Linked DNA regions of Homo sapiens. The protein of the gene in region 2 purifies or fractionates together with the protein of the main gene of each other region. This does not show direct contact. Each region holds a gene or a part of one and is shown on either strand. Other genes may lie near its edges. The genes, in order: GALNT16, SCPEP1 and CTU1.

Region 1 (10,850 bases), on a different chromosome or scaffold from region 2:
CACCTTCCCTCCCTCCCTCCCCTCACCTCCCCTCACCTTCCCTCTTCCTCACCCTAACACTTAGGCTGGAGTGTAATGGCATAACCAGGGCTCACTGCAGCCCCTACCTTTTGGGCTCAAGTGATCCTCCCACTCATAGGTGTGTGCCACCACGCCCAGCTAATTTTTTGATTTTTAGTAGAGACAAGGTCTCATTATGTTGCCCAGGCTGGTCTCAAACTCCTGGACTCAAGCAATCCTCCTGCCTTGGCCTCCCAAAGTGCTGGAATTACAGGCATAACCCACTGTGCCTGGCGGTTTCTCATTTTTTCACCACAGCTATTGATCTGCTGGTCAACAGCTTCTGCTTTGGTTGCTTTATTTCCTTAGGATAAACTCCCAGAAGGGAGAGAACAGGGCTAAAGGGGACGAATGTCTCTGCAGCCTTTGCTATGTAATGCAGTGTTGTTTCCTAAGGGGATAACGTCCATATCTAGATCTGAAACCATTAAAAATTCGGTTCCCACCACACCTAATTTATAACCCCTAGTAATGCCCTCTCAGTTCCCCCACAGCCGTCACGTGAAGATAAAACCCGGCAGCTAGAAAGCCAGATCACCAGTGTTGAGGAGATCTAAGGGTGGGGTGGGACCAAAGCCGCTGGCCCCAACCACCCCCTACCCGCCTGGGGGATGCACAAGATGAGGGCTGCACTCACGTGAGCTCTGGGTAGACGTTCTCCAGGTACCAGCGGAAGGACTTGCAGTTCATCTTCTTCCTCTGCTCTATCCGCGTAGCCACACTGTAGGAGGAGGCAGGGCTTGGGCTTTGGCCTGCCAGTGTGGAAGGCAGCCCGAGGGAGGATGCCAGAGGCCTGTCCCCCAGCCCCAACTATCTCAGGCAGGCAAGGACCAGGAGACTTCCAGCCTGCCATGTCCAGCCCTGGCCACTTATCTGATGTTATTCTCTGACTTGCAAGCTCAAGGCAGGTCTCCTGGCTATGCCTCACTCATCAAATTCCTGCCTGGAGCTCACCTTTCAGGGTGAGCACAGACCATACGGGACCATGCCTTTCTCTCGGCTTCTCACTCCTTAAGACCTCTGTTAGCAGACCATGAACTGGTCTTTATCTTTGCAGAATTAATGAGAAGTACAGGAGGAAGGTCTAACAGCAGGAAGAGCAAGCTTTAAACATCTTTAGATGTGTTGGCAAATAAAACCATTAGATGTGTCCTTGGGACACCGCCATCCTCACCTTCCTCAGGTACACCCACCACAATGGCCACTGGTTGACGGCCCTCGTCACCAGCTATCTGAGCCTCAGTTTCCTCTACATTCAACTGGGGACACGACCACTCATCTCAGAAGGCTTTTGTGAGAATCAAGTGAATTAAGTGTGAAGCACTTAGCACAGGGCAGGTGCTAAGTAAATGTTAGTTCCTCATTACAAGAAATATTTAGTGACATAACTTATTTTTTCAAAAAAAGGGAGATAGATATGAATAAATAGGGAGAAGATTCATTGATCATCATTAATAGTGTTTTCAAACTTTTCTGACCACAAGCTTAAGTAGGAGATAACTATCTTACATTTGTAATATAATACGCCCCATGTACAGTCAGCCCTCAGTATCTGTGGGTTCTGCATCCATGGATTCAACCAACCTTGGATCAAAAATACTTAGGAAAAAATTTCAGGCCAGGTGCAGTGGCTCATGCCTGTAATCTCAGTACTTTGGGAGGCCAAGATATGCAGATCGCTTGAGATCAGGAGTTCGAGACCAGCCTGGCTGACATGGTGAAACCCCATCTCTATTAAAAACACAAAAAATCAGCTGGGCATGGTGGCACGTGCCTGTAATCCCAGCTACTCTAGAGGACGAGGCAGGAGAATCGCTTGAACCCAGGAGATGGAGGTTGCAGTGAGCCTAGATTGTGCCACTGCACTCCAGCCTGGGTGACAGAATGAGACTCCATCTAGAAAAAAAAAAAAAAATTCCACAAGGTTCCAAAGCCAAACTTGAATTCGCCACGCATCGAGTACCACATTGAATCCATGCAAATGACGTGATGTGTAGGCATTGTATTAGGTATTATAAGTAATCTAGAGATGATTTAAAATATTCAGGAGGTTGTGCATAGGGTATGCAAATACTACACTATTTTATATCAGGGACTTGAGCATCTGTGTGGATTCTGGTATCCGTGGGGGGTCCTGGAACAAATCCCCTGCAGATGCAGAGGGGCAACTGTACATGTGTAGGTACATGCATGCACACACATGCACCCACAACGGAAATAAGAGTTTCATAAGGACAATACTAACCCTTAACTGCAATCAACTCTTATTTTCTATCCTGCTCTGTACTAATCTAATCTATAGGGTTCTACTTCTCTCTCTCTCTTTTTAAATGCTGGTCACGACCCACTAAATTGATTTCACAACCCATCTGCATTTTGAAAATGCTTAACTAGACCATAGTCCTAACAGTCCATGACAGGAAAATAGGCTAACAGATCTCAATTTTGAACAGGGAGTGGAGGCAGAACCCCAAATGCTTTCTGCAGGCAGCCCCCTCCTAAGCAGTTCCACAGATGCCTGTTCTTCTGCAGGCAGCTGTGGACAGGCAGCTCTTTTTCATAAGCGAGCCTTCTCTCCCATGAGATTTCACGCTCCTCAAAGCCTAAGGTCTTGTCTCTGCGGTTGCATTCCCTCCCAGGACCCAAAGAAGCCCATTAGAGTGGGACCTCAGTGGCTGGGGAGGTGGCGGGTGGTTCCCTGGCGTACATACCACTTCGTATTTTGCTGGGGTTGTGCTAATGTGGGTAGAGGGAGTCAGACAGTGGAGCTGGGGGGGCCCACCTGCCGAAGGCCTTCCCGATGGCCGAGGGCCGGGCCTCATAGTAGTATTGCTTGTATTCATCCATCCACACTTCTGCAGTGCGCTTAGTATTCCTAAAAGGAGAGGAAAGAGCAAAATAAGGTCACCAGGGAAGCAACAGGGTTAGCGGTCAGGATCAAGATTAATCGATCCATGAATACAGGACGATGAGAATCTCAGGAGCAAGGTGATACTTGGATGGTATAGATTAGCACGGTCCTTTTGGAAGACAGTCTGTCAATACCCATCGACTTTGTAGGTATGCAGCTAGACTTGGGCAGCTGCTGCTCCAGACGCTGTACGAATAAGCATGAGCTCGACAAGGTGAAGAACCATCCACATGTACGAGGGTGCTCATGACAAGTCCCTCATCCTCCCCTGCCAACCTCCTCAGGAGAGCAGACCGTGGAGTGGTCTTCTAGGACATTACCCACTCTCCCTTGAGACTAGTGCACCCTGTAGCTGGGGATAGGGATGGACAGATGGTTGATCAAGTCAGGGTTGGGGCACAGGCATCCATGACCAGCACTCGGGGCTCCATGAGTGGAGAGCATGGCTTAGTTGGGGATTTGGCCAATTTTCCGAGACTCATATGGACAAAGGAAGTCCATATGAGTCTCAAGGCAAGAGAGACCTGGTGGCAACTCCCTCCACCCCTGAAGGTACCTGCAATCCCAGGATGTTACCAGAGGGGGCAAATGGGGAAACTGAGGCCCAAGAAGTGAGGTGGCTGCCCACAGTCACATAGTGATAACTGGCAAGGCTGGGGGCTTGGGCCTTGGTGTCCTCCTCTGAGTCCCGTGCTCCTTTCTCGGTGACCTACCTGATGTAGGTGAGGGCATTACCCTCAGGGAAGTTGTAGGGGTGCCGTTTCCTGAAGACATGGCCCACCCGGCTGCAGGGGACGATCTCCAGACTGCCACCACACATCCACACCCTGAAGGAGAGCTCTGCAGGAAATAGTAGCCGTCAGGAGGAGGAAGGGGTTCCTTGGCAAGTGAGGGTGGGAAGGGGCTGGCTTCCCTTCCCTTTGGTGTCTCACTGGAGGTACATGTTGGGGTCGGGGCTCCTGGGCCTGCTCAAATGGAGTGCTCCCACTCCTTGCACAGGTTCCTGACTGCCCACTCTACGTGTGTACGTGCACATGCACACACACACATATACACATGATCCCCGTGGCCCATTCCAGGAAGAGCAGTGGAAAAAGCTTGAAGGAACACCAAGAACATAAGTAGAAGGAAAACAACCAAACAGTGGCATCATTTCCAGGCTCTGTCTAGAAAGCCCCAGACAGACATGAGCTAAGGAAAAACACATCTGCTCGTCAGCCAGCTCTGTGCACCTGAGAGGTCGGAAAACCAGCCACCAACCAAACCACAGGCTGCTCCAGCTGGCACCTCTTGGGCTGGCCCCAACCTCCCTCTTGACCCAGTTGGTCTCCTTGTACAGGCTCTCACTGGCCCTCTTGAGCCATGCCTCCTTTTGACAGCGGTGGTGGAGCTGAACCAGCTTTTGTGGATGACTGTGGTCCCCAGTGGTGTCGGGAGAGCAGTGGCCATCCTGCTGCCCAGAAGGGGACCTCAAAAGTTACCACTCTGATCTCCGCTCACCAGTTGCCATTTATGGTAAGGACCCACCTTGACAGCTGGCTGAATCTCACATAATCTCTTTTGATTTCGTACTTTCCTTCATATTAACCCTATAGTCTCTTCCCACTCCTCAGCTGGCTCTAAGGACACTCATGATCTCCAACCAGGCCTGGGGGCTCTCACGTGGCATAGCTGGTCAGGACCCTCCCAGTAACTAGCAAAGGGCAGAGTGGAGGAAGCAGGACTAAAGCCCACCTCTGGCCAGCCTGTGTGCACCAAGTGACGTCCAGATGTGGTTCAGGGCCAGGACCGGACACTTGGCATACCTGGACCCACATGTAAGGATGGCTATATCAATGGGCTTCCCTAGGTCTGCCTATAAACTGCCAGGCATCCGTCCCTTCTCCTGGTCAGAGCTCTGTGTTTGGCCTCAGCAACTAAGGCGTAGAACTGGGCACAGTCCTGGGGGGCCGAAGATCTGCATTCTGGTTCCATTTCTGCCATCCCAACTTTGTTATGCTAGTTAAGTCACTTCATCCCACTCAGCCCATAATGTCTATAATATTATTAACTATTGTTATTATTATCAACAATGGCCATAACAATAGCAGTAACCATCCATTTACTGAGTACTTACTACATGCCATGCTCTTTCTATCCAATATCTAATTCTCACTGCAACCATGTGAAGTCAGGATTTTTAGCCTTATTTTTTTTAACGAGGACGTTGAAGCTCAAAGTTGTTAAATAACCTCTCCAAGGTCACTCAAATATTCAGTTGCAGAAGTGCAGCATCAAGTTCACATTGTGTCCAGCAAGCCACACTGTCAGATTCTTTAGTTCACTCAGCAAATTTTCATTATATGTCAGACACTGCTCTAGATTCCCTTGTACTCTAGCAGGGAAGTGAGAAGACGGGAACTCCATAAAATAAGGGGCAAAAAAATGCAAGTAAACAAGAAAATGCATAAAAATGTAGCATGTCAGCCAGGTGCGGTGGTTCACGCCTGTGATCTTAGGACTTTGGGAGGCTGAGGGCGGCAGATTGCCTGAGCTCAGGAGTTCGAGACCAGCCTGGGCCACATGGTGAAACCCCGTCTCTACTAAAATGCAAAAGAAATTATCCGGGTGTGGCGGCATGCACCTGTAGTCCCAGCTATTTGGAAGGCTGAGGCAGAATTGTTTGAACCCGGGAGGCAGAGGTTTCAGTGAGCCAAGATCGTGCCACTGCACTCCATCCTGGGTGACAGAGGGAGACTCTGTCTCTAAAAATAAATAAATAAATAAAATGAAAAAAATAAAAATAAAAAATAAAATAAATACAGCATATCAGATGGTAGTTAGGGCCATGGAGAAAAATGAATCAGGCTGGGAGCTGAAGAGGGCCAGTGGATGGTGGTGGGGGAGGACTAAGACTATGTTTTAAACCAGGCTGATGAGGGGAGTTGTCACTATAAAAGGGACATTTGAGCCAAGACCTGAAACAGATGAGGGAGCAAGTCCTGTGGCTAGCAGGAGAAGAGCATTCCGGGCAGAGGAGCCGGCAAGGGCAGGTCCCTAGAGGCAACAGCACAGCTGGCAAGTTCAAAGAGGCCATGCTGGCTGGGGGCGGTGGCTCACGCCTACAACCCCAGCCCTTTGGGAGGCTGAGGCGGGTGGATCACCTGAGAGGTCAGGAGTTCGAGACCATCCTGGCCAACGTGGTGAAACCCCGTCTCTACTAAAAATACAAAAATTAGCCGGGCCTGGTGGTGTGTGCCTGTAATCCCAGCTACTCAGAAGGCTGAGGCAGGAGAATCGCTTGAACCCTGGAGGCAGAGAGTGCAATGAGTAAGATTGTGCCACTGCCTTCCAGCCTGGGCAATAAGAGCAAGACTCTGTCTGAAAAAAAAGGAGGCCGTGCAGCCCACGTGGAGTGAGGCAGGGTGGGAGAAGTGGGAAGTGAGGGCAGGGGTGTGGCTGCGGGGCTGCAGGGAAAGGCAGATACCCTGTAGCCAGTAAGGAGTTTGGGTTTTCCTCAGAATGACATGAGAACTCTTGCAAGGTTTTGAGCACAGAAGCAACATAATCTATGTTTTAAAAGGATCCCCAACACATCTTTGTTGGGGATCCTAACCTTGCACATCTGCCAGCCCCACTCAAGGTGGCCTCTGGGCTCCCGAGTTTGGAATTCTTTGGGGACAAAAGAACACGTCTTGGTTTGGAAATCTCCCTTCCTTCAATAAAGGAATAAAAGGAAAGGCTCAAACCCACCAGCGACAGGAGTCTCATAGCTCAAAACTGGTCCCAGCGGCTGAACGTCTGAGCACTGCAGCTAGCCCAGACATTTCTTTGAATTTCTTCTAAGAAACAAAACCCTTGCCAGAACCACTCTGTGGTTCACCTTTCAAGTTCTCCAACCACGGAGCCCTTGCCTCAGGCAGAGTTTGAAATGAGCTGTTTGATCATTCACTTGTTTCTCTGTCTCTAGCCTCAGAAAAAAAAGAAAAAGAAAAAATGGCCTTTGGAGGCAGAGCAAGGAGACTGTGGGTTTCCCAGCTTTCCAAGTCTTCACAGGAAACTGGCTTTGCCAAAGCCCTTCAGGCCGAGATTGAAGACACAAAGCGGGTCACTTGGACCCAAAACACATGAAAGGGGTCAGAATGGAGGGGTCACTGCACCCCAGTTCCCAGAATTTACTTCTCTGAACCCTGCCTGGAAACAGCCTCCAAAAGCAAGTTACAAAGCTGGGGGAGTCCCATGCCCATTCCCACTCCAGCTGGTTTTGAGTCGGGATCAGGCCTGTTGCAAGCCCCCTCACTGCTATTTTCCTCATCAGGGAGAAAGAGTTAAAGAATCCCTGCTCCTAACGTCTCAGAGACATAGACTGTGCCTTTGCCAACGTCCCACAACACATAAGTGGCTCTGGTAAAGGAGCTGCATACGCCCATTAGATGTGGAGTTTCCGGACTGAAATCTAGAAGGCAGCATCCACCTCAGTCTTTCTACCTGTCAAATGGGTGAGATACCACCAGTGCTAGTTATTGCTCAGAACACCTGGTCAGGAAGAAGAAGGAAGCAGTGGGAGAGGGCTCTGTGAAGGACTGGGCCCACCAAGAGGGCAAGAACAGGCCACCAAGGACCTGCCCCTGCTCCTGGAGACCCCCAGAATGGTGCTCCCCACCGCCCCCGTCTCCACGTCGCTGTTTGTGAGACAGCCCCTGGGGGCTGCACTGCTGGGTTCCCTTCCTCAGGCAGACAGGGAGGCACCAGCAGGAGATGACGGGGTGGGGGTAGAGTGAGGGTGAGTGTTTAGCCCTGACACTCTCCACCTGGTGCCATGGGCTGGCTGCATGTGCCCCAAGACCACAGCTCCATCGTGGGGTGCTCCCTCACCCTGTCTTTCAGACCTTGGGGTGGTTACAGCTCCCAGAAGTCACAGCCCTGCCCAGTACTGTGCTGTCCCTATGGTTCCCTCTATCCTGCCCGCACCATGTAAATAAGCCCTTTAATAAACACTCAAGTCGGTTGCACCTTCCGTATTCTGCCAGGACCCTAACTGATGCTCACCCTTTATCTAACCTCCATCTCACTTGCAACCCTGTTTTGCAAATGAAGAAACTGAGGTTCAAAGAGTTGACTGGCTTGCCAGCCCACACATACTGGAGTCCAGAGTTTGGGCTCCGATCCCACTTGGTAACCCTTCCCTGGTACTCTGTGGCCCCAACACCGTGAGCTGAGAAGCAAGTGTGTGAGGGTCCAGCCCCCTCCAGCTCCCTACTGGAACACTTTGCCCCCACCTCTGTCTCCTTCGCTGCTGCTTCAGGGCAGGGAGGGGCAGCTTCCTGTGCTTCTGAGTCTAGAGACTGCCTAATGACAGTGGCCACCAGCACTGTGACCTGCCTTTAACTCATCACCTCATTTAGTACTCATAACAACCTCTTGAGGAAACTCAGACTTTAAAGGGCTTTAACTTGCCCAGGGCCAAACAGCATGCAGGTGGTAGGGTCAGGGTTTGCACCCAGGCCATCTGACTCCATCACTTAGCATTTCACCACCACCCTCTACCACACACCTCCCAGCCTTGCTGGTAGGGAAGCAGCCACGTGTGTAAGCTGTGGTCTGTGATACAGTTGTGTGTTCTTCCACACACATGTCCAGCCATGTGACCACGGGCTCCCCCTAAATAGAACCTCTTTGTTTACTAGCTGTGTGGCTCTGGACAAATTGCTTAACTTCTCTGTGCCTTGGGTTTTAAAATCAGTAAAATGGAGATCATGGTACTTACCTCAGAGGGTCCTTGAGAGAATTAAATGACCTCATGTGTGTAAAGTCCTTAGAGCAGGTCCTCACGCATAGAAAGTGCTCTGTCAGGGTTAACTGTGGTTATTACTGCTACTGTTATTTTCACTGTCACTATTTCCCAACTCACCAAAATTCTCTCCCCCCCAGATGTCCATCTGGGCATCATACTTTCCCAAGTGGTTAAACCAGGACTTGTCGATCACGAAGATTCCTCCAGCTATGACAGGCGTCCTGGGAGCAAGGAGAGGGAAGACGCAACACGTGAGCTGGAGAAGCAAGGAGGCCCTTTAGATGGCCCCAGGACCCAAGACCGTCTGCCTCTAGATCCCTCCCTGCAGAGTCACTGGGGCAGGATGTCTGGCCAGCTCCCTGGCCCCCCACATCTGTTCCCGTGGCCTCTGTCCTCGCTGTCCCTGCATACAGGGTCCGAAGGCCCAGAACAGAGTCAGCACTTAGTGCGCCTCAGGAGCCCAAGCGACCGATACAGCCTCCCAAGAGCCTCCCAGGCCCCTGACCCAGGGAAGGAAGGGGTCCCCCAGAGCCCACCGCAGCTCTGACCTTATGGGCCTGGTGGGGTCTGTCCGGGTCATCTTCTGCTCAAGAGGGATCTGCTCCCACTTGAAATGCAGGCTCCAGTCGAACCCTAAGGGACACAGCAAGGTGAGGACAGAGCTCAGGGCAGAGCTGCGGGCTGCTGAGACCCTTCACTCCACCACCCCTCGGAGTCTCCCCTGATCAGAGCCCTGGGCTCTTCGTGCAGTCCCTCCTTCATTCGGAATGAGCCAAGCTCCTCCTCTCAGGAAGTGTACCATCTACTGGGTAAGACAGAAGCTACAAAGATAAATAAATCAGTGGAGACTATGTCAGCTGGGGATGAAAGTACTAAAAAAAAAAAAAAAAAGAAGAAAACAAAGAAGGAGTGCCCATACTATTAATATTTTAGTTAGAATAGTCAGGAAAGGCTCTCTGGTGACTTTGGAGTAGAGACCTGAATGAAGGATAGATCCATGAAGATACCTGGAGAAAGGGAATTCAAGGCAGGGGCAGCTGCCAGTGCCAAAGCCCTGAGGTGATTTCCCAAAGGGGAAATGCCTGGCTCCCTTCAGAATCCCACTCAGACTCACAATCTAACTAATGGCTGGGTCCATATACTGGGAGTCCAGATCCCAAACAGGAAATCCACTGTGCCCGCCAGCTCCCAGCAACAGATTCTCTAGAGCAGCACAGTTCCATAGAACTCTCTGCAATGATGAAATGTTCTGTATCTGCATTGTCAAATATGGTAGCCACTAACTTCATGTGGCTACTGAGCCTTGAAATGTGGCTAGTACAGTTAAGGAACTGCCTTTTAAGTTTTATTTAATTTGAATTAATGCAAGTTTAAGTAACCAAAGGTGACTATTATCTACTGTACTGAACAGCCCGTCACAGTCCAAAAGAAATATAATGCAAGGCACAAATGTAAGCCAAATACGTAATTCAAAATGTTCTAGTAATCACATCAGAAAAAGAATATATGAAATTAATTTGGACGAAATATTTTTAATGTAATATATCAAAAATATTGTCATTTCAACATGTAATCAATACAAAAAATTACTAATGAGGTATCTTACATTCTTTCACACTAAGTCTGGGTAACCTGTGGGTCTTCTATGCCTATAGCACTCTTAATTCCAACTAGTCACTTTTCAAGACTAGTCATATTTCAAGAGCTCAATAGCCAAATGTGGCTGATAGTTGCCATACACAACACTGGTCTTGACCATCTCTGGGGCGCATGTGTTAGGAAGTCATGTGAGGCTGAGGGCTCCCTACTCCCCATCCTCAAGACAGCTGTCACATCATGGCCTTCTGCCGGGACTTGTGGCCATGATCCCTAGGCTGGCAGCATTTGGGAAGAAAGTGTCAATATTTGGAGGGAGGGAAAGATGAGAGACTAGTCTGGCTCTGCTACTGATTGTATCAGAAGCCTGCAACTGCCAGCTCTGCTCCTTTGTCCCCAGTCCCAGGGCTGCACCCAATCCCTCTTCATTTTCTCTTTGGAGGTGGTGGAAGGGGTGTTCATGAGGGTCTCTGGCACAGCTGGAAAGAGCAGCAAGCAAGGGTTTTTGCC
Region 2 (8,988 bases):
TGCTGCCTTTCATTTGCTGTGAATACCATAGTCATGGATGAGACACTCCGTAGGTCCACAGATGCTAGTTTTGGCAGAAGCATTGTGGGAAAGGAAGGCACATCTATGTCCAGAGCAAGGGTTAATTCCATTGAAAACACAGTGCTGCCTGCCTCATAATAAAAGTGGTCCAATGTAATCAGCCTAACACCAGGTAGCCGGCTGATCTCTTCAGCAGTGATGCCACATTAGGGGCTCAGTGTTGTTTCTTCTGCTGGCAGATGGGGCACTCAGCAGTGGCTGTGACCAGGTCACCCTTAGTAAGTGGAAGCACATGTTGCCAAGCCCATGCATAGCCTCCATCCCCGCCGCCATGGCCACTTTGTTCATGAGTCTACAGGAATGGCTGAAGGAGGCTAATAGCCACAGAATGGGTCATCTACCCACCTGATTATTAAAATCTTCCCTTGCCCTAGTTGAGTATTCAGATGGAAAACAATGATCTTCATACTCGGCCATTCAGAGATCTAATCTCATACCTCTTCCTCAGAGCTTCTTGTCATCAATTTTCTAATCAAGTTTTTTTTCTTTTTGAGACAAGGTCTCACCCTGTCACTCAGGCTGGAGTACAAATATGGCTCGCTGTAGCCTCAACCAACCTGCCAGGCTCAAGTGATTCTCCTACCTCAGCCTCCTACACAGCTGAAACCACAGAGGTGCACCAACATGCTGAGTTAATGTTTTTATTTTCTGTAGATACAGGGTGTTATCATCTTGCTCAAGCTGGTCTTGAACTCCTGGACTCAAGGGATTCTCCCACCTCAGCCTCTCAAAGTGCTGGTATTATAGGCATGAACCACTGTGCCCAGCCTTCTAATCAAGTTTCTTCCAAGTCCCTAAATACCCAGCTAAATCATGAATTGGTGCACTTATTCTTCTGTTCATTTCCCCTTCCAGGGAAAGTGAAGAGCTGAGTGCACTGTTCCAAGTTCTGTCCACTGGGAGGATTTCTCTTCACACCATCTTTCAGGGCTGTCCTGGAGTGTGGCCGTGGTGCCATAGCGGTCCACATTCAGGTGATGCATGCATACTGTGGAGCCCCGTCTGTAAATCAAGCCTGAGAGTTGTCTTCCTTTGTCAACTGATCACAGGGATTCCCTAGGAAGGTAGGGGTGTGGGTTGAGAGAGAATGTTATACAGCAGGAATAAGAGCCCTGGGCAAGTCTAGGAATTTACTACAAGATCTTAGGACAAGACATGATTAACCTGCCCGGACAGCAATGGAAGGGCGGCTTCTAATGGCCAAAAAGGTTTGAGGTCCCCTAGCTTCATCTGTGCAGGTGACTCATCTCAATGTTCAGAATTACATTTCTTCTCAATCAATGCACTAACTTTTAACAGAAGAGACTCTGTGAGGTTGGGAATTCAACTTGCTTTATGATTCACTGCTTTGTTGGATGGTTCACCAAGACTCACAAGGCTCAGTAGCAGGTTATACTAATAGCTAACATTTTTGTAACAAAAGATGCATATCAAAAGCGGCAGGTAAAAACGATACACATGGGTGATGTCCAGGGGTATCCAGCACAGGCTTCTAAGGTTCTTGCTTTCCATGGGCACACTGGAGTTCTTGCCAACAGTGAACCATAGGGACATGTGTAGTCTCTGTCCCAGGAGCCTGTTTTTAGTCTCAGGGTCTGAAGGGGTTAGTCACGTAGACATAACCTGCTGTTAACTGTTTCCTCACAGTCTGCAGGAATAAGCTTTGGGTTTGTTATTTTTTTTAATTAATTAATTTATTTATTTATTTTTGGGACAGAGTCTTGCTCTGTTGCCCAGGCTGGAGTGCAGTGGCGCGATCTCGGCTCACTGCAAGCACTGCCTCCCGGGTTCACGCCATTCTCCTGCCTCAGCCTCCCAACTAGCTGGGACTACAGGTGCCCGCCACCACGCCTGGCTAATTTTGTGTGTGTGTGTGTGTAGAGATGGGGTTTCACCGTGTTAGCCAGGATGGTCTCGATCTCCTGACCTCGTGATCTGCCCGCCTTGGCCTCCCGAAGTGCTGGGATTACAGGCTGGAGCCACCGTGCCTGGCTGTTTTTTTAAATCTCAGCCTTTGGCCAGGCTTGGTGACTCATGCCTGTAATCCCAGCACTTTGGGAGCCCAAGGCAGGTGGATTGCTAGAGCCTGGGAGTTCGAGACCAGCCTGGGCCACATAGTGAGACTCCAACTCTACGAAAAAATTTTAAAAATTAGCTGGATGTGATGGTGCTTGCCTGTGGTACTAGCTACTTGGGAGGCTGGGGCAGGAGGATCATTTGAGGCATGATTGTGCCACTGCACTCTAGCCTGGGTCACAGAGTCTCAATAAATAAATAAATAAAATCTCAGCCCTGCAACTACAAGAGGTGATATTTCTTTCAGACAGTCCTAGAAGCTGTTAGATCCCCTATGCAGATTTTTTTTTCTTTTTGAGATGGGGTCTCTGTCACCCAGGCTGGAGTGAGTGGCTTGATCATGGCTCACTGCAACATCAACCTCCCTGGCTCAAGTGATCCTCCTGCCTCAGCCTCCTGAGTAGCTGGGACTACAGGTGTGTGCCACCATGCTCGGCTAATGTTTTTATTTTTTTTGTAGAAATGGGGTCTCCCTATGTTGCCCAGGCTGTTGTTGAACTCCTGGGCTCAAGCATTCCTCCTGCCTCGACCTCCCAAAGTGCTGGGTTTATAGGTGTGAGCCACGGCATCAAACCTCCTTATGTAGATCTTGAGCTATGAATAAAAAGTTAAAAGTCCTGAGCTAATTATTTTGATTTTAAGGAAATGTGGCAATCCTCTGACTAAATAATTACACTTTTATGAATTTATTCTAAGAAAATAAGGAGGTACAAAAAAATCTAACTATCAGGGTGAATCAACAGAGCACTATGTATAATAGCAACAAACTAGAAATTATTATACTTGTCGGAAACAACTGGGAATTTTGTAAATAAACTAGAGTACAACCATAAAGTAGAATGCTCCACAGCCATTAAAAATGTTAGAGAAGAACATTTATTGACATGAAAAGGTGTTTCAGATATACTGATATGTCAAACAAATAGTAAAACAACATAGAGTAATGATTCATTTTGGTAAAAAATATATATGTATATATAGAAAAAAAAATTCTGCAAGGACATATGCTAAATTGGTAACAGTGCTTACCCCTGGGAAGGGGGTATACAGATGTTGATTTACTCTTTGGGTACCTGTATTTCCCAGTTTTTCTATAAATCACATCATTTGCTTCTGTCATAAGAAAAAATAATATCTATTATCATCCTTTATTTTGATCAAAACAAATCAATTTTTTAAAAAATCTTAGGTTTTTTTAAGAAGCAGAAATAATTTCCAAATTGCCTCCAGAGACAATGATTTTATCCTCTGCAGAAGCTGGTCAGAACCTTCTTGATCACAGCCCCAGTTAGATACAGGGAAGAATGGCGCTTCCTACAGCTTCAGCGGCCTCAGCTCAGCTCTGTGCCCCAAGGCCAAACCAGCTCATCTCCAGCCCCATCCATCCTATTCTTGCTGAGTCACCAGTCTCATCATCTTCAGAGCCATGTCCCCTTGGTCAGAAGGAACCTAGAAAAAAACAACATCTGAGTTAGTGCTCCTGGTGCTATTCCTGGGGCTGGGGTCAGAGGCAACATCCTGAAACCTTGCTCCCAAAAGGGAGCCAGCTCTGTGACAGCAACCTGTGCAGACACCTGGGCACATCCCTGAGAGAGGGTCCTTCCTGAAAATGACTCCTGCACTGGATGAAAGCTCTTCTGGGCCCTGACTGGGCTGGGTGGCAGGGACCTGGAGAAGTCAGCATTTAAGACAAGAACCTTCTACTCCATTTGGAGCTGATCTGTTGATTTCTTGGTAAGGGTCATGCTAATGATACTAGACCTAGCCTGTTCAAGGAAGAAGGAAGATTCTAAACATTTTAAAGGCATCTGTCTAGAAGGGATCCCGGATTGAGAATAGAGAAATGGCTGAGAAGGGAGCTCACAGCAGAGAGCCGCAAATAATAAAAACAAACAGGGCCCTTTGGGTGGCATCCGATTTTCGCAGTTATTCAACTTTCTTTTGTTTTCCCTCAGATTTTTAGAATAAGTCCTTTAAAATTTCCTTCCCACACAGCATCAAAAGGGGGAAGGGCAGAGGCCTCAGTTTCTCCCTACACAGAAGGGGTTGGAGTATATGGTCTCCCCGTTATGTAATTCCCTGGCTCCATGATTCTCTATGGCACACCCATCCTTGACTCTTCTGCCAAGAGTCCCCAGGAGGCACAGGCAAGGTGGGTTATCCTAAAATGTCATTTAATCAATGAAAGGGGAAGTGGTTTGGGGACGACTTAACAACAGTCTCCAAGGGCTATTTTAAGCCTGTCCCCAACTGATCTGTTGTTCTATATGTGACAAACCAACAGGAAATGGGCCTGAACTCTAGTATACAGAGCGCGTGGTTGGCTTGTTCCATGCCTTCCTACCAGCCTCGTCAGGGACTTCTCTCTAGGGCAGGCTGAGCATCCCTCATTGGAAAATCCAAAATGCTCCACAATTCCAGCCTTTTTGAGTGCCACCATGAGGCCACAAGTGGAACATTTCACACCTGCCCCATGGGCGGCTGCATTCAAAATGCAGGCGCACAACACACAGTTTATTTCTGCATCCCCAAGGGGGTTACAGTACAGTAACCTTTTAATCAAAACACAGCATTGTAGGTAGAGACCGAAAGCTGCTGTTGCTTGCTGTTGCTGTTGTCTAGCAGCTGACACAGGTATTCTGGTCATGCTACTGTGCTGCTCAGTTACTCTGAACACACAACTTTTCCACTGTATTAATGGTATGTTGTATTTCTTACTGTGAAGTACTTATGTGTGACTACATGCAAGAAAAAGATTGCTTATCGGCAGCATATAAATTTGGAGTCAGAAATGATATGATGCCTAACAACCACAGATTGGTTGAAGAGCCATGGGTGGCTGAAATAGCCACCCTTTGCTCTCTAATAACTCAGTGCACACAAACTTTGCTTCATGCACAAAATTATTTAAAATATTGTACGAAAGTACCTTCGGTCTATGTGTATAAGGTGTATATGAAACATAAATGAATTCCATTGCCTAGACTTGGGTCCCATCCCCAAGATATCTCATTATGGATATGCAAATATTCCAAAATAAAAAAAAAATTAAAAATCTGAAACATTTCTGGTTCCAAACATCTCAGATAAGGGGTACTCAACCTGTAACAGTGCTTGCTCTAAGACGTTCTAATTTTCTTTCTTTTAGTCAATATTGAAGGTACTCAGATCCTGAGAGCCATAAATAATGCCCTCTCCCTCTGTGCCCTGCTGCCTTGTTTGTTCTCCCTTTAGATTAAGTCTATTTGTTTATTTATTGATTTACTTTTTGAGACAGAGTCTCACTCTGTCACCCAAGCTTTCAGGCTCAATCAATCCTCCCACCTCACTCAGCCTCCAGAGCAGCTGAGACCACAGGCAGGCGCCACCGCGCCCAGTTGATTTTTGTTCTTTTTTGAGACAGAGTCTCACTCTGTTGCCCAGGCTGGAGTGCAGTGGCGCTATCTCGCCAGCTGGATGCAATGGCACTATCTTGGCTCACTGCAACCTCTGCCTCCCAGGTTCAAGCGATTCTCCTGCCTCAGCCTCCTGAGTAGCTGGGATTACAGGTGCCCACCATCATGCCCAGCTAATTTTTGTATTTTTAGTAAAGATAGGGTTTCTCCATGTTAGCCAAGCTGGTCTCATACTCCTGACCTCAGGTGATCCACCTGCCTTCGCCTCCCAAAATGCTGGGATTACAGGTGTCAGCCACCATACCCAGCCTAGATTAAGTGTCTTTTGAGAGTGGGCTGCTTTCTCTGGCTTCTTAAAGGAAGCTACTGTCTCTTCTCCTCACTACTCATTCATTTTCTCCAGTCTTTCCAATCTGGCTTCTGAGCTTGCCACCTCACCAAAATATCTCACCAACGCAGGTGCCAAGGACATCGGTGTAAGCACATCATCACTCACGTTTCAGCCCTTCCCCTGAGTTCTCACTTAGCACTGCGGGCCCCTCCCTGCTTTGGGGATGCCACGCATCCCTGGTCTCCCTTCTCACTTATCTGGCTGCTCCTTTCTCAGTCTCATTTGTAGGCTCTTCTTCTGCCTTCTGTTCTATAGGCAATTCAAACTCAGCTTGTGCAAATTCCCTCCATCGCAAACCACAATGCTGGAGCAGAAACCTGCAAGCCACCCTTCAGTTCTTTTCTACCCCAAATGATTACCAAGTCCTGCCAATTTTCCCTTCTTTACACTTCACCAAATCCATCTACTTTCCTCCTTTCTGGATTTACCTGACAGCCTCATTGATTGGTCTTTGGCCCCAGGCTTGCCCCATGCCCTCTACTGCTAGAATGGTATTTCTTGGACAAATCTGTTAATTTCACTCCTTTGCTTAAAACCCCTGCTTGGTGCCCTACTGTCTGAACTCCTTAGAGTGGTATGAAAATTCCCCCTCTGCAGCCACCTCCCTCCAGTGTCCATTCCAAGTCCTCGCTGTCTGAGGCTCCTGTGGACCTTGTATTCACTGCTCTCCATGCTCCCCACCTCCTCCTCTTTCCTTAAATCACTCCTACGCATCACGTGGGGCACAATCTTCCAGATCTGCATGCCTGGGCAGGGCACCCTTCCCTGGGCCAAGCCAGCTGTTGACAGTCTCCTTGCCTGTCTGTCTCTAGACCACAAGCTCCTTGAGGACAGGGACTGGGCACCACTCACCCTTGTGCTCGCAGTCTCTAGTGCTAATAGCGGAATTTTGTTAGGAAACTCAAAACACTCCCAAGCCCTAAGTATTTCTTTTTTAATTTTTCTTTTTTTTTTTTTTTTTGAGACAGGGTCTCGCTCTGTCACCCAGGCTGGAGTGCAGTGGCATGATCTTGGCTCACTATAGCTTCTAACTTTCAGGCTCAATCAATCTGCCCACCTCACTCAGCCTCCTGAGCAGCTGAGACCACAGGCATGCGCCACCGTGCCCGGTTGATTTTTGTTCTTTTTTGAGACAGAGTCTCACTCTGTTGCCCAGGCTGGAGTGCAGTGGTGCTATCTCGGCTCACTGCAGCCTCCACCTCCCGGGTTCAAGTGATTCTCGTGCTTCAGCCTCCCAAGTAGCTGGGATTACAGACATGTGCTACCACACCTGGTAAATTTTTGTAGAGACAGGGTTTCGCCACGTTGCGAAGGCTGGTCTTGAACTCTTGAGCTCAAGCGATCCACCCGTCTCAGCCTCCCAAAGTGCTGGGATTGCAGGCATGAGCCTCTGTGCCTGGCCTAATTTTCATATTTTTTGTAGAGACAAGGTTTCTCCATGTGGCCCAGGCTGGTCTCAAACTCCTGGGCTCCAGCAATCCACCTGCCTTGGTCTCCCAAAGTGCTGAGATTACAGGCATGAGCCACTGTACCTGGCCCTCGGGCCCTCGTACTTCCTACAAGACCCACCTGGGCAGTGGACAGAGGCATAATAACCGCCTGTGGCTTCCCTCTCAGGATGATTTTTAAGTCTGGAACAAAAGCTCTTTCTTACCATATGACCAGCTTTCAGAATCCAGTAGAAAGCAAGGTTCTTGTAGGACTTGACAAAAGCAGATGTTTCCAAAGATTTAGGGTCACTGTACAGGGCCTTCCACTTCAGCTGACTGAATTTAGGCAGTTCTGGCCACTTCAGTTTCCGCACCCAGGCCTCCTGACCTGGTGAGAAGGACAAAGAGAAAGGCCTGGCATTAACAGCTGGATAGAATAGGAAAAAAGTCTAGGTCCTAAAAGTTGGTGCTTCCCAAACTGCAATATGCATGAAACTCACTCAGGATCTTGTTAAAATGCAAATTCTGATTCAGAAGATCAGGGTAGGGCCTGAGCATCTGCATTTCTGACTCCCAGTGAAACCTAGGCTGCTGGGAGAAACCTAACAGCTGCAAAGCCTGACTGATTTTGCCTCTGCATCTCTCACCGCCATCTGCTCTTTAGGAAGGGAACTGGGGACCTCTGGAGGCAGACAGGCCTGTGAGGAGGACTGAGAGATGTCGTGAACGAGATAGTGATAAGGATCACCTGGGATGTTCATCGAGAAATGCAGCAGCTTTCCAAATTGTCCTTGGTGTCTCTTGTTTACCCATCACAAAAATATTCAATCCTTCTGGTTCACGAGGCGTGTCACATCCGTCAGACCTTGTGCCTCAATTACCCTGCCAGTTCAGAGAACCTGTCTCTGAGCCTCCACCAGGCCCTATTTAATTTGGAAGTGAGCAAATTAAACAGGTGGTAGGTGATAGGGCAGGAGTCAGGATTCCACAAAGACCATTTCCCCTGGGTCTTCAGGGTTACAGTCATTAGGGTTTAGTTTTAATTCACTCTGCAGTGGTCAACATCGACTGTGATGTCGCACAAAAATGAGGCTCTCCCTTAATTAAACAGCGCATTTGCCCAATAACCAGGAAAATGTCTAAGTTTTGTGGTAGAGACAGGTGGTGTTCTTTTCTTTAATCATACCTAAGGGCCCCCAAACCCAGGTAGGCTCAGGCTTCTGAGGGGTCACAGCCACGTGCAGCTCCCCACCCTTTGAATAATCAAGGTCGGGGTAGACGGATGTAATGGGAAATGGCCTTCCACCTGGCATTTCAACATCACCCACCGCAAGACTGACATGTCCAAGGCCAGTTCCCTTCCAGTTGAACCCATAAAACTGCCTCTAGGTGCCTCTCAGAGTCAATTCCTACCCATGGTATCTACGATGAGATCCAGCTGTCCATTATACACCGTCACGTTGATCCCTGCCTCCAGCAACTCGTCCACAATGCTAATGACTGGCTTCATGAAGTCCTCCTCCATGTTCACAAAGACGTTGGTAGCCTGGCCTGCACATGGGGAAGGAGAAAGAGGGAGTAGCTTGGAATCTGCCAAAACAGGAGGTACCTTTCA
Region 3 (10,850 bases), on a different chromosome or scaffold from region 2:
TCCTGTTCACTGCCATGTTCCTAGAACCCAGAGGAGTGCCTGATGCAAAGGAGATGCTCATACACGTTTTGAGTGAATCATCTAGTCCTTGGCCTCCAGCCCAAGTTTGGGTGGCCACACAGTGAAGACAGGACTGAGAAGCAGGGGTTTGGGAGAATACTAAGCCCTGGGTTGGGTGATGGGAGGAGAGAATTGAGAAGCCTTCTAGGAGGACCCTGGAGGATCTGAGCAGGGTGATGGGAAGAAGGGGCATTTCTGACAAGAAGCCAGCCCAGCAAGTCCTGGAGGTGGGACTGAGAGCACCATCTCCCCGGGAAGTTTGAGATTCTCACAACCTCCCCGTACCTGTACAGGACAGCAACCCTGAGACCCGGCGCCCCCTGGTGGTCAGACAGTAACATGAACGACCAAGTCCAAGTGGTCACCATTTATTGAGCACCTCAACTTCTCTGATCTTCCATTTCCTCCCAGTGGTGCCTTGATGCGGGGGGGATGGGGGGGCGGGGGGGAAGGGGGCTGATTATATTTTCATAGGAGAAATGGGACATGAAAGAGGCTAAGTCACCGACAGGCTCACACAACCCTGCCTCCAGAGTCCAAGGTTTGGGGAACGCATCCAACCCCTCCTCACCCGTGACAGAGATACCAGGAGAGATTCGAGAGGGGATGGGTGGGGGAGGACCAATTCCACGACCTGTGATATTCGAGAGCTTTGGAGGGAGCCCTCGGTGTGACCCCTTCCGACTGGGTGTCTTAGGGCCATTTACCACTTCAGGCTACAGCCAGTGAGACCGTGGTGGAGACGAAATGAGGGTGCAGTGCGTGCTACACACGAAGCGCTGGAAGGGAGGCATCGTGACGGCGGCTGTGAATGGCGTGTGTCCATCAAGTCACGCTCCGCTTACCCCACTGCGGGCAAACAGGAAACATCAGGAATCTGATGCTCAAGGAGGGTCAGGACCATGCTGAGCGCACCCAGAACCAGCAGAGGCCCTGGGCAGGAGGTCCCCAACCAATCCCCACTCGCTCAAGAATCACACGGTGTTCAGCCCCCTCCTCCCTGAGACCCAGGAGTCCACGACCCCAGGCCCTCCTTCCTCAGCCACAGATGCCTGGGGTCCCCAGTCCCACTTCTTCTAGGCTTAGTCCTGGCCCTCTCCTCTCTCAGACCTAGGATGGTCCCCCAGCCCCCTCCTCCCTCAGAGCCTGAAGCCCAGTTCGAGACCCTTCTTCCCTGAGACCTCGAAGTCTGGGGTCCCAGCTTCTTCAGGGTTTCAGGTGAATGGGCCCCCGTCTCCTTCCCAACCCCACATGGAAGGCCAGGTAAGGTAACGGGTTTATTCACAGTGTCATTTACAGGCAGCCCCCACCCCGCGGCATCAGATCCCGGCGGGAGGCCCGAAGTCGCTAGAAGGTGGGGACGGCCTTGGAGGCGGGGGGCCGGGCCGGATCCCCGGGCGTCCCCGGCGTCGCCTCCTCGTCCAGACCCCGGCGGCCCTTGCCGATGGCCAGGCGGGGCCGGCCGCGGTTCAGGCCGTCCAGGAGCGCGCAGGCCTGGCAGAGCGCGCGGCTGGCCAGCGCCCCACAGCGGGAGCAGGCGCCGGGGCGCGGGGGCCGCGCGGCCGGGGCCAGCGCCAGGCGCTCGGCCGAGTGCACGAGGTCCAGCACCGCGGACGGCCGCGCCGCCTCCAGGCGCTTGAGCAGGTCCCGGGCGTGGCCGCGGAAGGCCTCGGGCGCGTAGACGCACTCCTCGGAGAAGTAGTCGAGGCGGCGGAAGTGCGCGTACAGCACCACCTCCTTCTGCGAGGCGAACTGCAGCGGGCGGCAGCGCGGCAGGGCGCCCCCCTCGCCGGGAGAGCCCAGGCCCCCGCCCCGGGCCAGCCGCCCCGCGTCGCCCCGTAGGAAGTTCATGAGCACGGTCTCCGCCATGTCGTCGGCGTTGTGACCTGGTGGGGAGAGAAGGGAGCGGGTGAGGTGGGGCGCGGAGGGCGCTGCTGGCCAGGGAGCCCCCCGGGGAACCAAGGGTCCACCAGGACCCAGAGAGAGACTGGGAGGAGAGACCCACGGAGACCCAGGGCACAGTGGGGCCGCCAGGACCCAGAGAGAGACGGCGACGGGGAGAGCAAGCCATGGAGACAGACCCCCAAACATGGTGTGACAGCCAGGATCCAGAGACAGGGAGGGGGAGAGAGAGCCATGGAGACCCCTAGGGCACTGTGGGCAACCAGGACGCAGAGAGAGACGGGGAGGGCAAGAGCGAGCCATGGAGACCCTCCGGGAACCGTGAAGCAGCCAGGTGCAGGCTGCAGGTGGACACAACAAAAAATCAAAGAGAAACATAAGCTCCCCTGGCGCAACTTGGGCGTGCCTTCATGTACCACCCGCCTACTGCATAGCGGACCTTATGCTAGTTGCCCTTTCATATAGGGAGTAAAAGTGCATTATGCTGCTAATAACCTTATCAGCCTCAGTTAAAACCGTAATTCAAACTGTACACAAAAATCAGAAGGCATTTAAGGCATTTAACCGAGATTCTCAGGAGAGCTGGAGGGGTAGGCAGGCTGCTGTCTCCCCCACCGCCTAGGGAATCCATGGCCTAATTCTGGGAACCTGTTAATATGTTTGGTTGTAGGACAAAGGGGAATTAAGGTTGCAAGTTGAATTGGGGCTGCTAATCAGCTGACTTTACAATAGGGACAGAATGGTGCGTTATCCAGGTGCGCTCAAGGTAATCACAAAGACCCTTAGAGGGGAGGAGGGAGGCAGAAAAGGGAGAGATAGGGCCATGGAGACCTTTGAACATAGTGGGCAGCCAGGACCCAGAGAGAGATGGGGAGGGGAAGCCTGAGCCATGGAGCCCCTCTGGCACCATAGGACAGCCAGGACCCAGAGACCGGGAGAGGGAGATGGGGCCATGGAGCCCCCTGGGCACTGTGGTGCAGCTAGGTGGTGGCTGGAGGTGGACACAGCAGGAATTGAGAGGGGAACACACACAAGCTCCCTGGGGAACTTGGGGATACCTCATTTGCCACCCGCCTACTGCATATGGGGGGTGTGAGGGCAGAGGCAAGGTTAGAGTGATGCAAACGGTGTAGGACTCAAACTGCCATCCTTGGCTTTGAAAATGGAGGAAGAGCCGGGCACAGTGGCTCATGCCTGTAATCCCAGCACTTTGGGAGGCTAAGGTGGGAGAATCACCTGAGGCCACGAGTTTGAGACCAGCCTGGCCAACATGGCAAAACCCCCATCTCTACTAAAAATACAAAAATTAGCAGGTCATGGTGGCAGGCACCTGTAACCCCAGCTGAGGCATGAGAATCTCTTGAACCTGGGAGGGAGAGGTTGCAGTGAGCCGAGATCACTCCACTGCACTCCAGCCTGGGCTCCACAGCAAGACTCTGTCTCAAAAGAAAAAAAAGAAAAGAAAATGGAGGAAGGGACCATCAGCCAGGAATGTGGGCAGCCTCCGGAAGCTGGAAAAGGCAAGGAAATGGACCCCCTTGCCCCAGAGCCTCCAGGAGAAAGGCAGCACTCTTGACACTTTGATTTTAGCCCGGTGAGACTTCCCAGACTTCTATCTACAGAACTACAAGATAATAAATCTGTGTTGTTTAAAGCTGTGAAATTTGAAGTAATTTGTTACAGCAGCCAGAGAAAACAACTGGTTCTTGACACAGAGCCTCTGACAACCCAGACTGTAGTTTTTTTATGGTTTTTTTTTTTCATTTTGTTTTATTGTGCGTGTGTGTGTGTGTGTGTGTGTGTGTTTGAGACAGGGTCTCACTTTAGTGCCCAGGCTGGAGGACAGTGGCACGATCTCAGCTCACTGCAACCTCTGTCTCCAGGGCTTAAGTGATCCCCCTGCCTCAGCCTCCAGAGTAGCTGGGACCACAGGTGTGTGCCACCATGCCCAGCTAATTTTTGTATTTCTATACAGACGCAGTTTCTCCATGTTGGCCAGGCTGGTCTTGAACTCCTCTGAGCTCAAGTGATCCACCTGCCTCGGCCTCCCAAAGCGGCTGGGATTACTAGCATGTGTCACCACCCCTGTAATCACTGCAGTGTTTTTGTGTTATCTTTGTTTAGAAGTAACAGTGAGAAATATTTACACACTGGTCACCATGAAATTGAAGCTAAACTTGTTCTGTGTCTTGTCAAGTTATACTTGAGTCTATATCAGTGGTTCTCAATCTGGGATGAGTCTGCCCTCCTTCCCTCCCCCAGAGACATTTGGCAATGGCTGGAGACATTTCTGTGTGTCAGGTTGGGGGTGGGGCACTACTATTAAATAGCATCTAGTGGGTAGAGGCCAGGGATACTGCTAAAATCCTATAACACAGAGGACAGCTCCCTAAAAACAAACTATCTGGCCCCAAATATCAATAGGGCTGAAGTTGAGAGGCCCTGGTCTATATGGTAAAAAACCTCCAAGAACTTGGCTCTAATTGTGTTTGTAGTAATGGTTACCTCCCAAAGACCTGCCAAGCCCTGTGACCTTGAGATTGGGCATGTTTGCTACTGCAAACGACATCTCGTTGAATGTTTATTGACTTAAAGTTGTAAACCACATTAATTAGGGGAGACTGGATTTGCTCCACACCTTGTCATTACAAACCCACTTAAGAGCTCCCAGTTTTGTAATAATTATTACAACAATTATTATACTACGCCTTTGAAAATGGAGTGTATAAACAAAGGGTAGAAATCACCTTGCAAGTCAGGGATTTTTCTGGAAGGCTTCATTACTTTTGGAAGTACAATTAATAAGTGATTCTATCAAATTAACTTTAAAATCCGAGGCAGCCTCTCATTCTTTTTTTTTCTCCCCCAGCTGGAATCTTGCTCTGTCACCCAGGCTGGAGTGCAGTGGCGTGATCTCGACTCACTGCAACCTCCGCCTCCCGGGTTCAAGCAATTCTCCTGCCTCAGCCTCCCGTGTAGCTGGGATTACAGCCGCCCACCACCACACTCAGCTAATTTTTGTATTCTTAGTAGAGACGGGGTTTCACCATGTTGGCCAGGCTGGCCTCGAACGTTTGACCTTGTGATTCCGCCTGCCTCAGCCTCCCAAAGTGCTGGGATTACAGGTGTGAGCCACTGTGCCCGGCCGAAGCCTTTCATTCTTTCCATACACTGTCTGCTCTTGTATGGTAAGGATTATTCTTCCCATTTTCAATCACAGAGATCTAGGGATTTCTCCAAAGTTACTCAGTAAGGAAAGGGCCACATCAGTGAATGAAGCTCAGTAAGCCTTCCCCAGAGCCAGTGGCCCTACCTAGCATGGTGGCACATGACAGCCTCAGAACTACTTTTGCCTTCATATGCTTTCAGTGTGCTGATTCTCTCCAACCATCATCTCTCACCTCCATCACCGCAGCTGGCTTCCCACTGACTGGTCTCCTCGGCTTTGTCCCTGTCCCTCCAACCCAGGTTCCTCGCCATGGCCTGGGTGAGCTTTTCAAAGTGAAACTCTCTTCATGTCACTTTTACTGGTTCCGCCACAGCCTACAGGGTAAGGCCTGACCTCTTCCACCTCTCCAGCCTCCCCTGCCCTTGCTTTCTGGGTTCCAGCCACACTGGACTTCTTGGGGCAGCCCAAATTGGCTTTTCACAGGCCAATAACCTCTCCCTAATTCTTACCCGCTTTACCTCTTCACTGTGAGCCTTCAGATTTCAAAACCGTTCCTTGACCCCACTCCCTCCACGTCATAGGGTTCTCTGTGTGTACACATAGTCCATAACATGTCCATACATGGTCAATAACATGTATAATGTTTATAATTTTGTACCTGATAACCATGCAAAGGTAGGAACTTGTGCGTAACTGTATTCTCAGCCCTAGCCTGACAATGATGATGATAATAGCATGTATAAAATGTGTAATCTATATTATATCATACGGGTTATGTAACATAACTATAATATAGATAACGTTATACTTCTACTGACTCATCTAATTGTCATAACAAGTTTATGAGCTGGGTACCATTCATAGTCCTGTTTTAGGGATGGGGTGAAACAGAAGTACAGAGTGGTTAAGAACTTTGGTATGGCCACAGTTGGGATCCGGCATATAGCAGAAACTTAGCATCTGTTTGTTGAAGGAATGGATGAAAAAGACAGAATAAAAAAGTTATCTTCCAGCACTTTGGGAGGCCGAGGTGGGTGGATCACGAGGTCAGGAGATCGAGATCATCCTGGCTAACATGGTGAAACCCCGTCTCTACTAAAAATACAAAAAATTAGCTGGGCGTGGTGGCAGGCACCTGTAGCCCCGGCTACTCGGGAGGCTGAGCCAGGAGAATGGCGTGAATCCGGGAGGCAGAGGTTGCAGTAAGCCGAGATCGCACCACTGCACTCCAGCCTGGGAGACAGAGCGAGACTCTGTCTCAAAAAAAAAAAAAAAAAAAAAGTTATCAAAGAGGAGAGGCCAACCAAGAAAAGGAATTAAGAGATGGAGATGCTTTTTAGAGAAAGAGCTGGATTCTGAAAGGTGGACCATAAGAGATCAAGCATGTTAGAAACATTTAAAAATAAGTAAAGGACCAGAGATCTCCAGAGATTTTCACCTCCCACCCCTTTGGCAATCTGTGGAGACCAAGACGGTGGCCAAGACCCAAAAACCTTTGTGATCACTGCCTGGCCCCTCTGTCTCCCCAGCGTCTTGAACCTTTAAAGGGCCCCAGCCCCAAACTGCAGCATGCGCCCTTCCGCACCTCCGTACAGGGATCCTCCCATTAAGCCACCAGGGTCTCCTCGCCGCCTTCTGGAGCATGCGCCTGAATCCCCTTTCAGGTCCCGCCTCCTCGCCTGTGCATTCGCCCCACTGCCTCGGAGAGTGCCGCTCTGCGGCCCGTACTACGCTCACCTGTCACGATGTGCGTGGCTCCCACGCGGCGCGCCCCTTCCTCCAGCGCCCGGCGCCGCAGCACTCCACAGAAGGTGCAGCAGGAGCGGCTGCGGCCGGAGCCGGCTGTGCTGCGGGCCACGGCGTCCATCGTCCAGCCCCCAAAGAGGTCTTCGTAGGCCACGACCGTGAGCGGCAGCTCCCAGCGCGCCGCCTGGCGCCGCACGGCCGCCAACGCCGCGTCCCGGTAGCCACCGATGCCCTCATCGACGGCCACGAGCTGCAGTGAGATGCCCAGGCGCGGCGCCAGCGCGCGCAGCACGTGCGCCAGCACCGTGGAGTCCTTGCCGCCCGAGGCGCCCACGGCCACCACCGCGCCGGGCGGCAGCAGGCGGCCGGCGAGCACCGTGTGCAGCACCTCGGCCTCGAAGGCGGCGCAGAAGCAGGCACCGCACAGCGCTTGGCCCGAGAGCGGACGGCGGAGGGCGGCGCGTGCAGCATGGCAGGAGGCGCACGGCGGGGCGGGCATTGCGGGAGGGGTCGGCTTCTCCTAGACAGGGAGAGAGAGGAGGTGGGTTACATATGGATTCCGGATTGCAGGGTCCCTGCCATCGGGGAGATTGTCTGGATTGCACCTCTGCCCGGAATAGACCAGGGAGACGTGTGCGCGAGTGGAGTAGCTTCTTCTAGCGCTGGGGATAGGATGGTTATAAATAGGTCCGGTGTAAGGAAGCCACTGCCTTAGGGAAGGCTTCTTGGATTGCACCCATTATGCAAGAAGAAGAGAAGTAGCTTAAGAAGCTGGCTTCATGGGTAAAGAGAGGGAGCGACAAGCAGGTTATACCCAGGATTAGGTTGTGTCCTCTCCAGAGGGATGGGGGTGTATATTAAGGCCCATTTGTCACAACCTCCAGGGAGGCCACCCTTGTTACAGTCCTGATCAGGACAAGGTAGGTATCATTGGCCTGGGCCACCAGGGCTGTTAAAAGCCCTTGGGAGGTGAGGGGTTTTTGACTCTAAGGGCAGAGGGAGGCCAGGGGACTGAAGCTCTGTGCAGCGGGAGGTGGAAAACAGGAAAGGCCAACTGATTGCACTTTGTAGGGTGGGATACGGTCTCCAGGAATGGGTTCTGATTGCATCCTATGAAAGGCAGGGTGATCACCTTCTCCAGGGAACACAGGCAGCCTGGATCACACCTCTCAGGAGACCAGCTGGGGTTGCACACATTTTGAGGGTGAGAAAATGGGTGGGCCTCCAAGATTGAACTCAACCCTGCTCTGGTATCAGAATGCCCCACAAGCTTCTGTGCTCTCACCAAGACATGGATCGGCCCATCTTTGACCTTCATCTGTTATCTTTCCTACTTCATTCTTCCCCACCCAGCCTAGACTCCAACCCTCCAGTCAAATCCTGGTCCTGCCTGCCTGGTGAACCCATAAAAACTCCCCAGGCTCAGTTCTCCTCCCCAAGCCACCATCACCTCCAGCCTGGACTACTGTAGTCACCTCCTTGCCATTCAGAGCAGGTCACGCTGCTTCTAGGATTTACCACAATGTGTGGAATTATTTTATGTGACTATATATTTACCATCTCTAACTTCTATGAGGGCAGAGACCAGTACCACTCAGATGTCTAATAGGCATCTCAAAACCCAAATTCCTGATTCTTCTAACCCAGCGTGCTTCTCCTGGAGTACAGGGCAGCTCCATCCTTCTAGCTGCTCAGGCCAGGAGCTTTGGGGTCCAGGACCCTGGACTGCTCTTTCTCTCACTGCACTTGTCATGCTCCCAGTGGGTGGCACCAAACTGCAATGCCAAGTCCGGACCTTTTCAAACTCCAGGTACCTAAATGAAATTTAGCAAATCCTGTTTGAATGTAGTTTCAAAACAGCCAAACACTTAGGACCGTCTCCACGGCAGCACCCTAGTCTGGTCTGTCTCTCTCCTGGACGGCTGCATGGGGCTCCCCACAGGTCTCCTGCTCCCGCCTTGCCTCCTCTACAAACACTCCTTCACATAACAGCCAGTGGGATCATGCCCTGAATCTTCTCAGCATCCTCCCCTGGATCCCATCTCACTTTAGTATAATAACTGCTAATGGCCGATGAGGCCCTACATGTGTGGCTCCTTGTTTCTCCAACCTCCTCTCCTTCAGCCTTGATGTCGTTTACTCTGACACCTGAGGAATACTCCTGCTCCAGATGTTTGCACTGGCTCTCCCCTCTGCCCTGAGTACTCTTCCTGCCACTGAGCCCAAGAAGCAGCCCTTAGGACTCATCTGCAGTGACCGTCGGGAACATCTGTCACAGGTGAGCAGCAACTCTTGGAATCTTTCTTCCCCCGACTTTTGACTCACTCCTTCTGTGCTCCTGGATTTCCTGCTCAATTCTCTTTTGGGGACGCCTCTTCATGTCCTCAGGTCCTGCCTAGCACCCATCTCTTTCCATTTTTTAAAGATTTTTAATTTAATTTAATTTAATTTTTTGAGATGGAGTCTGGCTCTGTTACCCAGGTGGAATGCAGTGGCACAATCTCGGCTCACTGTAACCTCTGCCTCCCAGGGTCAAGCGTTTCTCCTGCCTTAGCCACCCGAGTAACTGGGACTACAGGCGTGTACCACCATGCCTGGCTAATTTTTTTTTTTTTTTTTGTATTTTTAGTAGAGATGCGGTTTCACCATGTTGGCCAGGCTGGTCTTGAACTCCTGACCTCAAGTGATCCGCCCGCCTCGGCCTCCCAAAGTGCTGGGATTACAGGCGTAAGCCACTGTGCCCAGCTTCTTTCCATTCTTATGAGCGCCTCTGAATCATGATATTCAGATGTCCCTCCTGGCTGGTCCTCCACATGGCTGGGGCACCTTAAAGATGTTCAGACCCTAAGCGCCCAGACAACCTATTTCTTCCTCGAAAGGCAGAAACCTGTTCTTGCCCATCTGTTCCCTCTCTTCTGAGAGCAGCCACCACCTTTCATCCAGCCCATCTGCAGGACAGGACGTAACGTCACCCTGGACTCATCTCTCCTCACCCCCTAAATCTACAGTCACCCAGTCCTGGGGGGTCCACGTCCTGAGGAAGGGAGACGCTCGCAGGGGACAAGGCTGCACAAGTTAGCAGAGCCTCATAGGCCATGATGTGGAATTTTAGGTTTATTCAGGAGGAGATGGGAGCCTTGGGAGGTTTTTGAACAGTAAAGTGGTATGATCTGGCATGTTTTAAAAGGATTCCTAGACTGGTCAACATAGCGAGACCCCATCTCTAAAAAAATAAATAAATAAATTAGCTGCACCTGGTGGCACAGGCCTGTAGTACCAGCTACTCAGGAAGCCAAGGCAGGAGGATCACTTGAGCCCAGGAGGTCAAGGCTGCAGTGAGCCATGATCGCACCAGTGCACTCCAGCGTGGGTGATAGAGTGAGACCTTGTCTCAAATAAAAAAAGTGGGATTCGTTTGGCTGCTGTGTGGGGAGGACTGTTGGTTGTCAGGGACAAGGACAGAAGGCTGGAGGTCAGCACACTAGACAGGAGTGCTGGCAGTAGAGGTGGGAAGAAGTGAAATTTTGGATCTATTTTGAAGGTGGAGCCCACAGGACTTGTATAAGACTGATTGGAGTGGGGACTGGGGCAACGACGAGAGAAAGTGATGAAGGGTAACTTTGAGGTTCTGGCCTGAGCATTGGAGGGACGGTGGGGCCATTTTGTGAGGTGAGAAGACCAGGAATTCCATTTGGCCACGTCAGGTTTGACATGCATGTTAAGCGTCTTCCCTCAAAGACTTTATGGACCCTCGTCACTGAGTCGAGCGCCTCCACCAGGGCCCTCAGAGCTGCCCTGATCCTGACTAGCTGTCACTGGTGACAGGTCTGTCTCTCTGCTTCAAGGCAGGGACAGGGTTGGTCTGGTGCCCTCGCTCCCGCCGCCCTGCGCAGAGTCGGTGCTCAGTAAGTATCTGTAGGATGAGGGAATAATAAGTGCTCCCAGAAGAGAGGCCGCGGACCCCAGGGATGCC

Evidence for each region.
Region 1: the proteins of SCPEP1 (region 2) and GALNT16 purify together in Homo sapiens (co-immunoprecipitation; 2 studies listed by BioGRID and IntAct, with this or other methods). This does not show direct contact.
Region 3: the proteins of SCPEP1 (region 2) and CTU1 purify together in Homo sapiens (co-immunoprecipitation; 2 studies listed by BioGRID and IntAct, with this or other methods). This does not show direct contact.

The regions. Positions count from the first base shown.
Region 1 is NC_000014.9:69,331,612-69,342,461, reverse strand, and holds part of GALNT16 (polypeptide N-acetylgalactosaminyltransferase 16), read right to left. Parts: intron 9,378-10,850; coding exon 9,293-9,377; intron 8,966-9,292; coding exon 8,862-8,965; intron 3,812-8,861; coding exon 3,685-3,811; intron 2,936-3,684; coding exon 2,843-2,935; intron 782-2,842; coding exon 698-781; intron 1-697. UniProt on the Homo sapiens protein: Catalyzes the initial reaction in O-linked oligosaccharide biosynthesis, the transfer of an N-acetyl-D-galactosamine residue to a serine or threonine residue on the protein receptor.
Region 2 is NC_000017.11:57,000,791-57,009,778, reverse strand, and holds the end of SCPEP1 (retinoid-inducible serine carboxypeptidase precursor), read right to left. Parts: intron 8,925-8,988; coding exon 8,787-8,924; intron 7,762-8,786; coding exon 7,598-7,761; intron 3,607-7,597; coding exon 3,544-3,606; 3' UTR 3,011-3,543; downstream 1-3,010. UniProt on the Homo sapiens protein: May be involved in vascular wall and kidney homeostasis.
Region 3 is NC_000019.10:51,097,194-51,108,043, forward strand, and holds the end of CTU1 (cytoplasmic tRNA 2-thiolation protein 1), read right to left. Parts: intron 7,398-10,850; 5' UTR 7,377-7,397; coding exon 6,869-7,376; intron 1,947-6,868; coding exon 1,408-1,946; 3' UTR 413-1,407; downstream 1-412.